3 linked regions of the Homo sapiens genome follow. The protein of the gene in region 2 interacts with the protein of the main gene of each other region in a biochemical or structural test. Each region holds a gene or a part of one and is shown on either strand. Other genes may lie near its edges. The genes, in order: LATS1, MINK1 and STRN4.

The links.
Region 1: of the proteins of MINK1 (region 2) and LATS1, one has a biochemical effect on the other in vitro, tested with the Homo sapiens proteins (2 studies listed by BioGRID).
Region 3: the proteins of MINK1 (region 2) and STRN4 form a complex in vitro, tested with the Homo sapiens proteins (one study listed by BioGRID).

What each region holds. Positions count from the first base shown.
Region 1 is NC_000006.12:149,680,046-149,683,694, reverse strand, and holds part of LATS1 (serine/threonine-protein kinase LATS1), read left to right. Parts: coding exon 1-616; coding exon of another isoform or gene 617-679; exon of another isoform or gene 680-781; intron 782-2,171; exon of another isoform or gene 2,172-2,234; intron 2,235-3,237; coding exon 3,238-3,649. UniProt on the Homo sapiens protein: Negative regulator of YAP1 in the Hippo signaling pathway that plays a pivotal role in organ size control and tumor suppression by restricting proliferation and promoting apoptosis.
Region 2 is NC_000017.11:4,892,281-4,895,540, forward strand, and holds part of MINK1 (misshapen-like kinase 1), read left to right. Parts: intron 1-121; coding exon 122-232; intron 233-375; coding exon 376-488; intron 489-698; coding exon 699-787; intron 788-1,005; coding exon of another isoform or gene 1,006-1,029; intron 1,030-1,153; coding exon 1,154-1,317; intron 1,318-1,707; coding exon 1,708-1,813; intron 1,814-1,893; coding exon 1,894-2,031; intron 2,032-2,244; coding exon 2,245-2,353; intron 2,354-2,794; coding exon 2,795-2,962; intron 2,963-3,055; coding exon of another isoform or gene 3,056-3,069; coding exon 3,070-3,213; exon of another isoform or gene 3,214-3,214; intron 3,215-3,260. UniProt on the Homo sapiens protein: Serine/threonine kinase which acts as a negative regulator of Ras-related Rap2-mediated signal transduction to control neuronal structure and AMPA receptor trafficking.
Region 3 is NC_000019.10:46,736,451-46,740,099, forward strand, and holds part of STRN4 (striatin-4), read right to left. Parts: intron 2,937-3,649; exon of another isoform or gene 2,860-2,936; intron 2,439-2,859; coding exon 2,335-2,438; intron 1,788-2,334; coding exon 1,714-1,787; intron 452-1,713; coding exon 373-451; intron 53-372; coding exon of another isoform or gene 8-52; intron 1-7. UniProt on the Homo sapiens protein: Calmodulin-binding scaffolding protein which is the center of the striatin-interacting phosphatase and kinase (STRIPAK) complexes.

The sequences.
Region 1 (3,649 bases), on a different chromosome or scaffold from region 2:
TAATAACCCATTAGGAAATAGAGCAAGTCACTCTGCTAATTCTCAGCCTTCTGCTACAACAGTCACTGCAATTACACCAGCTCCTATTCAACAGCCTGTGAAAAGTATGCGTGTATTAAAACCAGAGCTACAGACTGCTTTAGCACCTACACACCCTTCTTGGATACCACAGCCAATTCAAACTGTTCAACCCAGTCCTTTTCCTGAGGGAACCGCTTCAAATGTGACTGTGATGCCACCTGTTGCTGAAGCTCCAAACTATCAAGGACCACCACCACCCTACCCAAAACATCTGCTGCACCAAAACCCATCTGTTCCTCCATACGAGTCAATCAGTAAGCCTAGCAAAGAGGATCAGCCAAGCTTGCCCAAGGAAGATGAGAGTGAAAAGAGTTATGAAAATGTTGATAGTGGGGATAAAGAAAAGAAACAGATTACAACTTCACCTATTACTGTTAGGAAAAACAAGAAAGATGAAGAGCGAAGGGAATCTCGTATTCAAAGTTATTCTCCTCAAGCATTTAAATTCTTTATGGAGCAACATGTAGAAAATGTACTCAAATCTCATCAGCAGCGTCTACATCGTAAAAAACAATTAGAGAATGAAATGATGCGGGTAAAACCTTTTAAAATGTCCATTTTTATACTTAATCATCTGTTTGCTTGGTGTTTATTTTAAAATATTGTGTCCAGTATTTTTCTTTCTTTTTATAGCTAAATAAAATATATTATCAGTTATGGAATTTAAAAGTGAATAAATATTAAAGTACTTTTGATTGTAGCATTTTATTTTAGTATTTCAATATTTATTCAGAATTTCCTATAATAAAATCTCGTGTAAATTAAGAAAAATATAATTTGCGGTATACAGTTTAGGTGTACATAATACCTTTATATGAAAATTGGAGGAAGGGTTGTCTTCTAGGCTTCATACAATATCTTACAACATTTAAAAATAAACTAGAAATATGTGGGTCTCAGGCTGGGGCATGGGGGCTCACGCCTGTAATCAAAGCACTTTGGAAGGCTGAGGCAGGCAGATCATGAGGTCAGGAGATCGAGACCATCCTGCCTAACACAGTGAAACCCCGTCTCTACTAAAAATACCAAAAAAAATTAGCTGGGCATGGTGGCGGGCGCCTGTAGTCCCAGCTACTTGGAAGGCTGAGGCAGGAGAATGGCGTGAACCCCGGAGGCGGAGGTTGCAGTGAGCCGAGATCGCGCCACTGCACTCCAGTGTGGGCGACAGTGAGACTCCGTCTCAAAAAAAAAAAAAAAAGAAAAAAGAAATACGTGGGTCTCATCTCTTGATATACTTATAAAACATTTACTTTTAGAAAATTTGGAGTTTATAGGTTTATTCATCACATATATCTTATTAAAAAGTGTAAAGAAGTTTCCTTCAGTTATATCTCCCTTCTCATTTCATTTTTATAATATACTGGAGAAAAATGTGCTAAAATTATTTAGTGAAACTATACTAAAAGGGAGATCAGAGTAAGTAAACACACTTTAATCTGTGTTGTCATTCCACATAGATCTCTAGATATTAAGGTAGTACGATCATCATTTTTTTTTTTTTTTGAGACGACATCTCACTCTGTCGCCAGGCTGGAGTGCAGTGGCGCCATCTCAGCTCACTGCAACCTCCGCCTCCCGGGTTCAAGCAGTTCTCCTGCCTCAGCCTCCCCACTAGCTGGGACTACAAGCGCCCGTCAGCACGCTGAGCTAATTTTTTATTTTTAGTAGAGGCGGGGTTTCACCATGTTGGCCAGGCCGGTCTTGATCTCTTGACGCCATGACCCACCCGCGTCTGCCTCCCAAAGCACTGGGATTACAGGCATGAGCCACTGTGCCTGGCCATTATTGTTTTTATCATATGCTTAGAGTTCAAAGATTTGACTCCTAATCTTACATCTGTCACTCACAATCCAAGAGGCTTAACCTTGTGATTAAACACCTTTATATACTTGAACCATTCTTTTAAAATGATTTTAATAAATCTGATTTTACAGTATTGTTATTTCTATTTTATATTTTATTAAATGAGAAATACCATAATAATTTCTATGACTTATCCATATTTTAATTCTTAGGATTTCTTACTAAAGTCTGCCTATGTGTATTTTCTTAGTTTATTTTTCCTTTTTCCTCTTCACTTTCACTAATAGCTGATTTAAACTTTTATGGTGTTGGAAGCTTTGCTGACTTCTGTAGTCTCCATTACTGTGTAGGCAAGTAAGATTTTAAGAGAAACAGTTCTGAACTAAGTCTGGCATGCCATCCTTCTTAAAAGATTTTGCATGCAAATGTGAATCCTAACAGAAGCATGTGGTTGTTCTATTTTAGTCTTGTATTTCTAGAATTAGACCCCACTTTTCCAACTGGATTTCTTTTCTATTTAAACCCTTTAATTAATTCTTTATTAATTAGCCAAAATGTTTCTCCCTTCTAAATCCAGGCATTCCATATCTATAATACTTAGAAGTTAGTTTTTGTTTTTAATCTATTTTTTGATATTTTCATGAGTCACACTGAAGTATTCCTAAGTATCCAAAGGATATCTTGTAAACAACCAGGTTGTTCTTTTCGAAGTAGGAGAAACCCTTTGCAATTTGTGTTAGTGGTAGACTGTGAGTCGCACCTTTACTCTGATGCCCTGAAAAATAGAAAAGGAAAGATTATTAATGACTGTTGTATATTTATTGAGAATAGGGAAAGGATTGGTGGGTTAGAAAAGGCATTGTTTTGTTGTTCTTTGGTACATTAATTTTTTAGAATAAATGAGCCTGGAGTGGAAGAATTTTTTTTCATGAAAGACAAAATAGGAAGAATATTTGAGGCCTAGGCATTCCACCAAGAGAAGCATATACAGAGAGATAAATGAATATGCATGTTAACATGTTAACAGATGTTTGTTGCACATTGAGAACCTTTTTTTTTTTTTTTTTCGGAGTGCATTAGAGAAGAGTAGAAAGCTTACTCATCTGGTACCCTCTTCTTGCACTCCACAGCTGAATTTGCATAGGTACTCACTTTGAATATCCTTTTAACTACCCCTTAGGCTGCACTTTTGATCATTAATTTCCTTTGAAATGTTTTCTAGATTTCTAACATGCTTTATTAAAAATTATGCATTTAACCTTTAAATATATGCCTGAATTTTTCCCAAGCTATTTCTTAATATTCAATATTGAAGAAGATAATTCTTATTTAACATCTAGTTTATTTGCCTAGGTTGGATTATCTCAAGATGCCCAGGATCAAATGAGAAAGATGCTTTGCCAAAAAGAATCTAATTACATCCGTCTTAAAAGGGCTAAAATGGACAAGTCTATGTTTGTGAAGATAAAGACACTAGGAATAGGAGCATTTGGTGAAGTCTGTCTAGCAAGAAAAGTAGATACTAAGGCTTTGTATGCAACAAAAACTCTTCGAAAGAAAGATGTTCTTCTTCGAAATCAAGTCGCTCATGTTAAGGCTGAGAGAGATATCCTGGCTGAAGCTGACAATGAATGGGTAGTTCGTCTATATTATTCATTCCAAGATAAGGACAATTTATACTTTGTAATGGACTACATTCCTGGGGGTGATATGATGAGCCTATTAATTAGAATGGGCATCTTTCCAGAAAGTCTGGCACGATTCT
Region 2 (3,260 bases):
TAGGGAGTAGGGGGGGCACAGGGACTTTACCAGCCTACCCGCCTGGGGGTGGGAAAGCCCCAGCCCCATCACCTCAGCGCCCCCCCGCCGCCCCCTCGGCACCCCTGTGCTCCCTTCACAGACCTCGCAGCAACTCCGCCTGGCAAATCTATCTGCAAAGGCGGGCAGAGCGGGGCACCCCAAAGCCTCCAGGGCCCCCTGCTCAGCCCCCTGGCCCGCCCAACGCCTCTAGGTAATAGAGTTGTCCCCCAACTCACTCTCACCTCTCACTTCTGCCACCCGCTTCCCTGGTGATGGCTCCCTCTGCAGTGCAGCTCAGCACCCCAGAGAAGGGAGCACCGTGCCTCCCTGACCCTGACTCTGCCCCCCCAACAGTAACCCCGACCTCAGGAGGAGCGACCCTGGCTGGGAACGCTCGGACAGCGTCCTTCCAGCCTCTCACGGGCACCTCCCCCAGGCTGGCTCACTGGAGCGGAACCGCGTGGGAGGTATGTGAGCCAGGGCTGGGCAGCCTGCTCTGGGCCTGGGGGCTTATCACCATGGACCCTGCCTTTGGTGGCTTTGGACTGGGGCACCCACACGGACAGGGAGGACCTGTGTGGGTATGGAACTTGGGGCTGAGTTCTGGGGCTCAGGGTGTGGGCTTGAGGCCATCCCTTGTTCAGGCATCAGTGACCTTCTTCCACCCTGCCGTCCAGTCTCCTCCAAACCGGACAGCTCCCCTGTGCTCTCCCCTGGGAATAAAGCCAAGCCCGACGACCACCGCTCACGGCCAGGCCGGCCCGCAGTGAGTCACCTGGTGGCAGGCATGGCCTGCCTCATCCTGGTTTGGGGCTTAGCCTCAGGGTGCTGGGTGTCAGGGGTGGGGTCTCCGCTGATCTACCGAGAAGGGCTGTGGGGATGGAGGGACTGGTGCTTCTCATGGTGCTAACCTTTCCTAACCTCTCTCCTAACCTCTCTCCTAACCTCTCTTCTGGCTCTTTCTTCCCCTGCGGCCCCTCCCAGAGCTATAAGCGAGCAATTGGTGAGGTTAGTGAGATGGGCCTGCTTGTGGGAGCCCCTCCTGTCGCCCTGCTGGGGTGTCCCGGCACCCTTTGTCTACCTCCACCCAGGCCCAGCTTCTCCCTGCCCCTCACGTGGCTCCTCCCTGCAGGACTTTGTGTTGCTGAAAGAGCGGACTCTGGACGAGGCCCCTCGGCCTCCCAAGAAGGCCATGGACTACTCGTCGTCCAGCGAGGAGGTGGAAAGCAGTGAGGACGACGAGGAGGAAGGCGAAGGCGGGCCAGCAGAGGGGAGCAGAGATACCCCTGGGGGCCGGTACGGCATCGGGAGTGGGGCCCTCCCACTCCAAGGCACAGGGAGGGAGGGGAAGTGGCAGTGGGGAAGAGGTGGGGCTTTGGGGCAAGTCTGAGGGAGAGCGGCTCCCTTCTCTAGAGAGTGGGGTGAGGGTGCAGGTTCCTGTCTCTCTCCCGCTGCCCTGTGTGTTGTGGGGTGGCCTCTTCAAGTGCCTGTCTGCCCCTGTGCCAGCCTGCCCTGTGTGCCATGCAGGGAAGCACCTCACGGTGGAGCAGGGGCTACACCGTGAGGGTGGAGCAGGTTGTGTTTTGAATAGAGACAAAAGCCTGGGCTCTGGCTGCCATCTGCTGCCTTTGGCACTTCTGTGGCCACGGGCAGGACCTGGAGGGGCCCCACCTTCCTCTCTCACAGCAGCGATGGGGATACAGACAGCGTCAGCACCATGGTGGTCCACGACGTCGAGGAGATCACCGGGACCCAGCCCCCATACGGGGGCGGCACCATGGTGGTCCAGCGCGTGAGTGAGCCTCTGCTCCCTCCCCTGTACCTGTGTGTGCCCTCCTCAGCCCCACGCCAACCCTGCCCTCTGTCCTGTAGACCCCTGAAGAGGAGCGGAACCTGCTGCATGCTGACAGCAATGGGTACACAAACCTGCCTGACGTGGTCCAGCCCAGCCACTCACCCACCGAGAACAGCAAAGGCCAAAGCCCACCCTCGAAGGATGGGAGTGGTGACGTAAGTGGGCCGGAGGCAGGTCCGCCGGGAGAGAAGAGCCCTGGCGATGGGCAGGAGGTCCCGGTGCTGGGTAACGGCAGAGGATGGGGCGGAGCGCTGGGAGCTGGACAGCGGGGGTGCCAGTTGGGGAGCTGGAGCCTGGGGAACAGCAGCAGGGGCAGGGCCGCAGCTGGACTTGCACTTGTTTGCCTGACTGCTGTCCCCCTACCACAGTACCAGTCTCGTGGGCTGGTAAAGGCCCCTGGCAAGAGCTCGTTCACGATGTTTGTGGATCTAGGGATCTACCAGCCTGGAGGCAGTGGGGACAGCATCCCCATCACAGGTGAGGACAGGAGGACAGACCTGCTGTGAGGCCAGGGTCCAGGGGCAGCCTGGAGGGGAGCACAGTGGTCTTGAGACGCAGCCTCACAAAGCATAGCCACAGGACCTCTCCCTTGGGCCCTAGCACCTGCCTGGGCACAGAGGCAAGGAAGAGCCTCTGAGACCCCTCCTTCCTGTCCCACAGGACAGGAAATGCTCAGAGTTGCCAGGGGACCTGGGCAAAGACTCAAAGCTAACAAGTGACAGAAATGGGACTTGAGCCAGACCTTTTGACTCCAAGTCCAGCACTCTATCCCCCTCTCCCATGCACCTCCTCTCCTCCTGTCTTTCTCCTCCTTTCTGCGTATTATGAGGTGCCAAGACCTGATATAGGGGATGGAGGTAAAAAGAGATGGGGTGAGAAGCTGCAGCCCCTCCTCCCACCTCCTCCTCCTTCTGGCAGCCCTAGTGGGTGGAGAGGGCACTCGGCTCGACCAGCTGCAGTACGACGTGAGGAAGGGTTCTGTGGTCAACGTGAATCCCACCAACACCCGGGCCCACAGTGAGACCCCTGAGATCCGGAAGTACAAGAAGCGATTCAACTCCGAGATCCTCTGTGCAGCCCTTTGGGGTAAGCCAGGGCAGGGACAGCTGAGGAGGCTCTGGCGTGGCTCTTGTGCTCCTGGTTAGGTGAGGGCCTGGCTGAGCCTCTGACCTGCCCAAGGGCTCCTGTTGCAGGGGTCAACCTGCTGGTGGGCACGGAGAACGGGCTGATGTTGCTGGACCGAAGTGGGCAGGGCAAGGTGTATGGACTCATTGGGCGGCGACGCTTCCAGCAGATGGATGTGCTGGAGGGGCTCAACCTGCTCATCACCATCTCAGGTACAGGTGTGGTGAGTGGGGGAGGGAGGAGGGGCTCAGCTCCTTGG
Region 3 (3,649 bases), on a different chromosome or scaffold from region 2:
ATATTACCCTTGGGAAATAAAAAGCCATGCTTCATAAATCTTCACAAGGTATCTAAAAAAAAAAAAAAAAAAGCCACACAGGGCTCCTATGGCCACTGAGACAAAAAAAAAAAAAAAAAAAAAAGCCACAGAGGCATTCAGGGACACATTCCAACAGGGGTGTCCCCACGTCTGCCTCCTGCAGCGGGTTTCCCTCCCTCTCCCCAGGCCAGGCTCCGCCCACAGGGTGAAAGCCATTCCAGCCATGGCTGGCTAAGATCCTGATAGTTCAGCATCCCCAGTGGGGACGGAAAAGGACTGTGGAGTCTTTGGACTTATCTCTCAAGCCAAACGTGTCACGTGTCCCCAGCCCCCCTCCCCGAGCACACTCACTGTCGGAGAAGCTGCCGCCCCTCCTTCCACACCAACGGGCTGTTCTCCAGGGTGACCGATTCCACGGGGCCATTGGAGACTGGCGGGTGAGAGAACGGAGGCTGTCTTAAGTCAGGCCACTGCCACCTACCCATCACCTCCTCCATCTTCCTCACCCCTCCAACCCAAATCGGTCACTGTCGCAGGTCCTGTGGCATCACTTCCTGAGTGTTGGAACCCTGCTCTCTTCCCTTACTCGGGGATTCCTCCTCCTTGAAGCGTTCCTCATCTCTAGGTCTCCTGACTGGTGGTTCCCCAAACTGGCCCCCGACAAGATAAGGGTGTTATCTCAAAACCAGAAAGCTGGCCTGGTTCTGAGAGAAGGGCCGACTGGGTTCAAGCCCAGCTCTGCCCCATCCCAGCTGTGTGACCCTGAGTTAGTGTAAGCCGTGTCAGTTTCGTCCTCTGAGAAATGAGCTTAATGATAACAGCATCTCCCTCTTGGGAGTGCTGAGAGGATGCAATGAGATAATTTGCTTAGTATTTTATTCAAGTCTTTCCTGGGCATCTACGCTGTGCCTGGCCAGGGGCCTGGGCTACATGGGTAAACAAAGACCTGCCCTTGTGGAACTTCCGTTCTAGTGAGAGGAGCTGGCAGCAGGTAATGACCATCACTATCAGCTGAGCACACAAGGTCTTCTCAGCTTGCCTCGGCCAAGCTTCCCCCTCACCCAGCCCGCCCTCCCACATCCTCTGCCCTACACTGTTTGCCCAGGCACACTGACCGACTCCCTGTCCCCTAACCCTTTCAGCGTGCGTCTCTGTATCTGTGCTCTCTCCCCTGACTCTCCTGCTGGGGAACGGAGTCATCTTTCAAGGAGCTTAGACTCTAAGGGACCAGAGGGTAGAGACCATGTCTCCCGTGCTCTCTGCTGTATTCCTGATCTGTGATACAAAGCCTGTACCCTACAAATAAAGTCTTTTTTGGATGAACGATTGAACGGCAACCCTGTTCAAACGCCACCTCCTCAGTGACGTCTTCCCCGGCTTTCCCGCACCGTCCCCAGCACTCTATAAATAGCCCTGGCGCCCACTCCTCGCAAAGGGATCCCGTGAGCTGCTCGTGTGTCTGCCTCTGTTGCACAGGGGGACCCAAGCGGGACTGGCCCCCAGGGTCCAGCACGGGACCTGGCAGCCCATAGGGAGGGCTCTGAGAGTGAGATTCCGCCCCTCCCCAGCCCCGGGGCCGATTCTGCCTTCTAAGGAGCAAAGTGAGAAAGAGGCACCCCATCTTCCTGCTTCTCCAGAACACTCAGCTTCTGCGGGAGGGTGCCGACAGTGCGAGCATCAGAGGGTGGGTACCTTGTTCTGACACATCTGCTTTCTTCTCCCCCTGGTTCAGGTCTGTCCCAAACTTCAGTTTATGATATTTGGCCCTAAAAGAGCAAATGATTAATGAATAAGAGATGCGGGAGAGTAGACAGGGTCAGTAGTTACCTAAGGAATCCAGAATCCCAAACCCCAAATCACAGGGCCTCCCCCAGCTCGTCTACTACTGAGGCTGAAGCATCCCCCCACACCCCTGGCCTGGTGGAAGAAACCACTCCCTGGAGTCAGGCAACCTAGGTTGCTCTCAGGGGTCCTTGAGGAAACCATCAGCCCTTGAAACCCCAGTTCCTTATCTGAAACAGGGCTAACAATACCCGTTAGGCTATTGGAAGGTATAAGGGATAACGGAGGTAAGGACTATACGATATTTGGCGCACAGTGGGCCACTAGCATCGTGAATATCGTTCCTGGTGTCTAACCCAAATCCCACCTACTCTGTCCTGTTTCTCCCCTAGAATCTTATGGTACTGGAATGATGGAAAAGAATGTCGACCCCAAATCTCCCTTAGCTGGAAGGAGGCGTGGCTGGTGGCCTCCTGACACTGTGCTTGAGACGGACCCAGAAGGCAGGCCCAGGGCAGGATGAAGGCTCACCTTTCCTGCTTCAGCGCATACTCTAGCATCTTGATCCGCCGCACCAGGTCCGTCTTTAGATTCTCCTGCCCTTTCCTCTCTCCCTGAAGGAAGGCCACCTGAGCCTGGGAGGGCAGACAGGAGGCAAAGGGAGATAATGGGGCTCAGGCTCAATGCCGGTGTGTCTATCACTCACCCAGGTATAGTGCCAGCCCACAGTCACCCCACAGTAATGGGCAGCAGCCACTTCCTCAGGCACAAAGATCCCAAGCCAGGGTTCAGGGAGCACTGAGAGGACAGGATGGATCTGTTTCCAGGGCCCCCTGCCACGTCACCCACAACGAGGGCCGAAGGGGAGCCCTTAACCCCTGAGATAACAATGGGGCCAGCCTGGGCCTCACCTGGTGGCTGCCTTTGGGGGGAAGTCGGGTCAGGGATGGCAGTGGAGAGGAGGGTGGGCATTCACCGCCCTGGACTACCCCTGACGCCCTCTGGCAGGTGCTGTCCCTAAGGCTGCTGGTGGAGGTGGCGTCCCACTATTCTTACCAGAGCATCTGTCTCTGGGAGGCGTGGGAAGCTACTTCTGGAGCTTAGGGACAAGAGTGGGTGGCTCGGCTCGGCTCCTGCTCCAATAGAAAAGCTTTACAAGCCAAGCCCGCTGTGGGGACCAGCCGTCCCACTGCATTCCGCCCAGGGTGTGAGAGAAATGTGCCACAGACACGACCCCGGGTTCCTGCCAAGCACTTCACACCGTCTGCTGGCTTGAGCTGCCCCGTCTGCTCCAGTCTGTCAACAGGTCATTTGGAGACACTGGGCCCACTGCCTTCCAGGCAGGATCCTGGCCCCTGACCATGGTCCAGAAGCTCTTCTGCCAAAGCCCTGGCCCAAGGCTCATCTCTGGCTTCTCCCCAAGCACCCCACCGTTCCAGCCCAGAACAGCCAGAGCCCAGGCCCAACTTAGACACTTACTCGCTACATGATCTTACGCAGGTCATCAGCCTTCTCTGAGCCTCCATTTGCCCCTCTAGAAAATGAGAGTCACAAGAGTGCCCTCCCCTCATGTGCTAGGTTCTGCTCAGTCAAGGCCTGGCACAGAATAAAGGCTAACAAATGCCAGCTTCTACTTCTTTCATCATTTTTATTCTCCCTGTCCATTGTTCGCAACTTCGAAATGGGCCCAGTTCCTTACGGGAGGTAGGATCCCTTGGAGACCCCAGATCAACTAGAAATGTCTGTGGATTGGCCAGGCACAGTGGCTCACGCCTGTAATCCCAGCCCTTTGGGAGGCTGAGGTGGGCAGATGACTTGAGGTCAGGAGTTCAAGACCAGCCTGGCC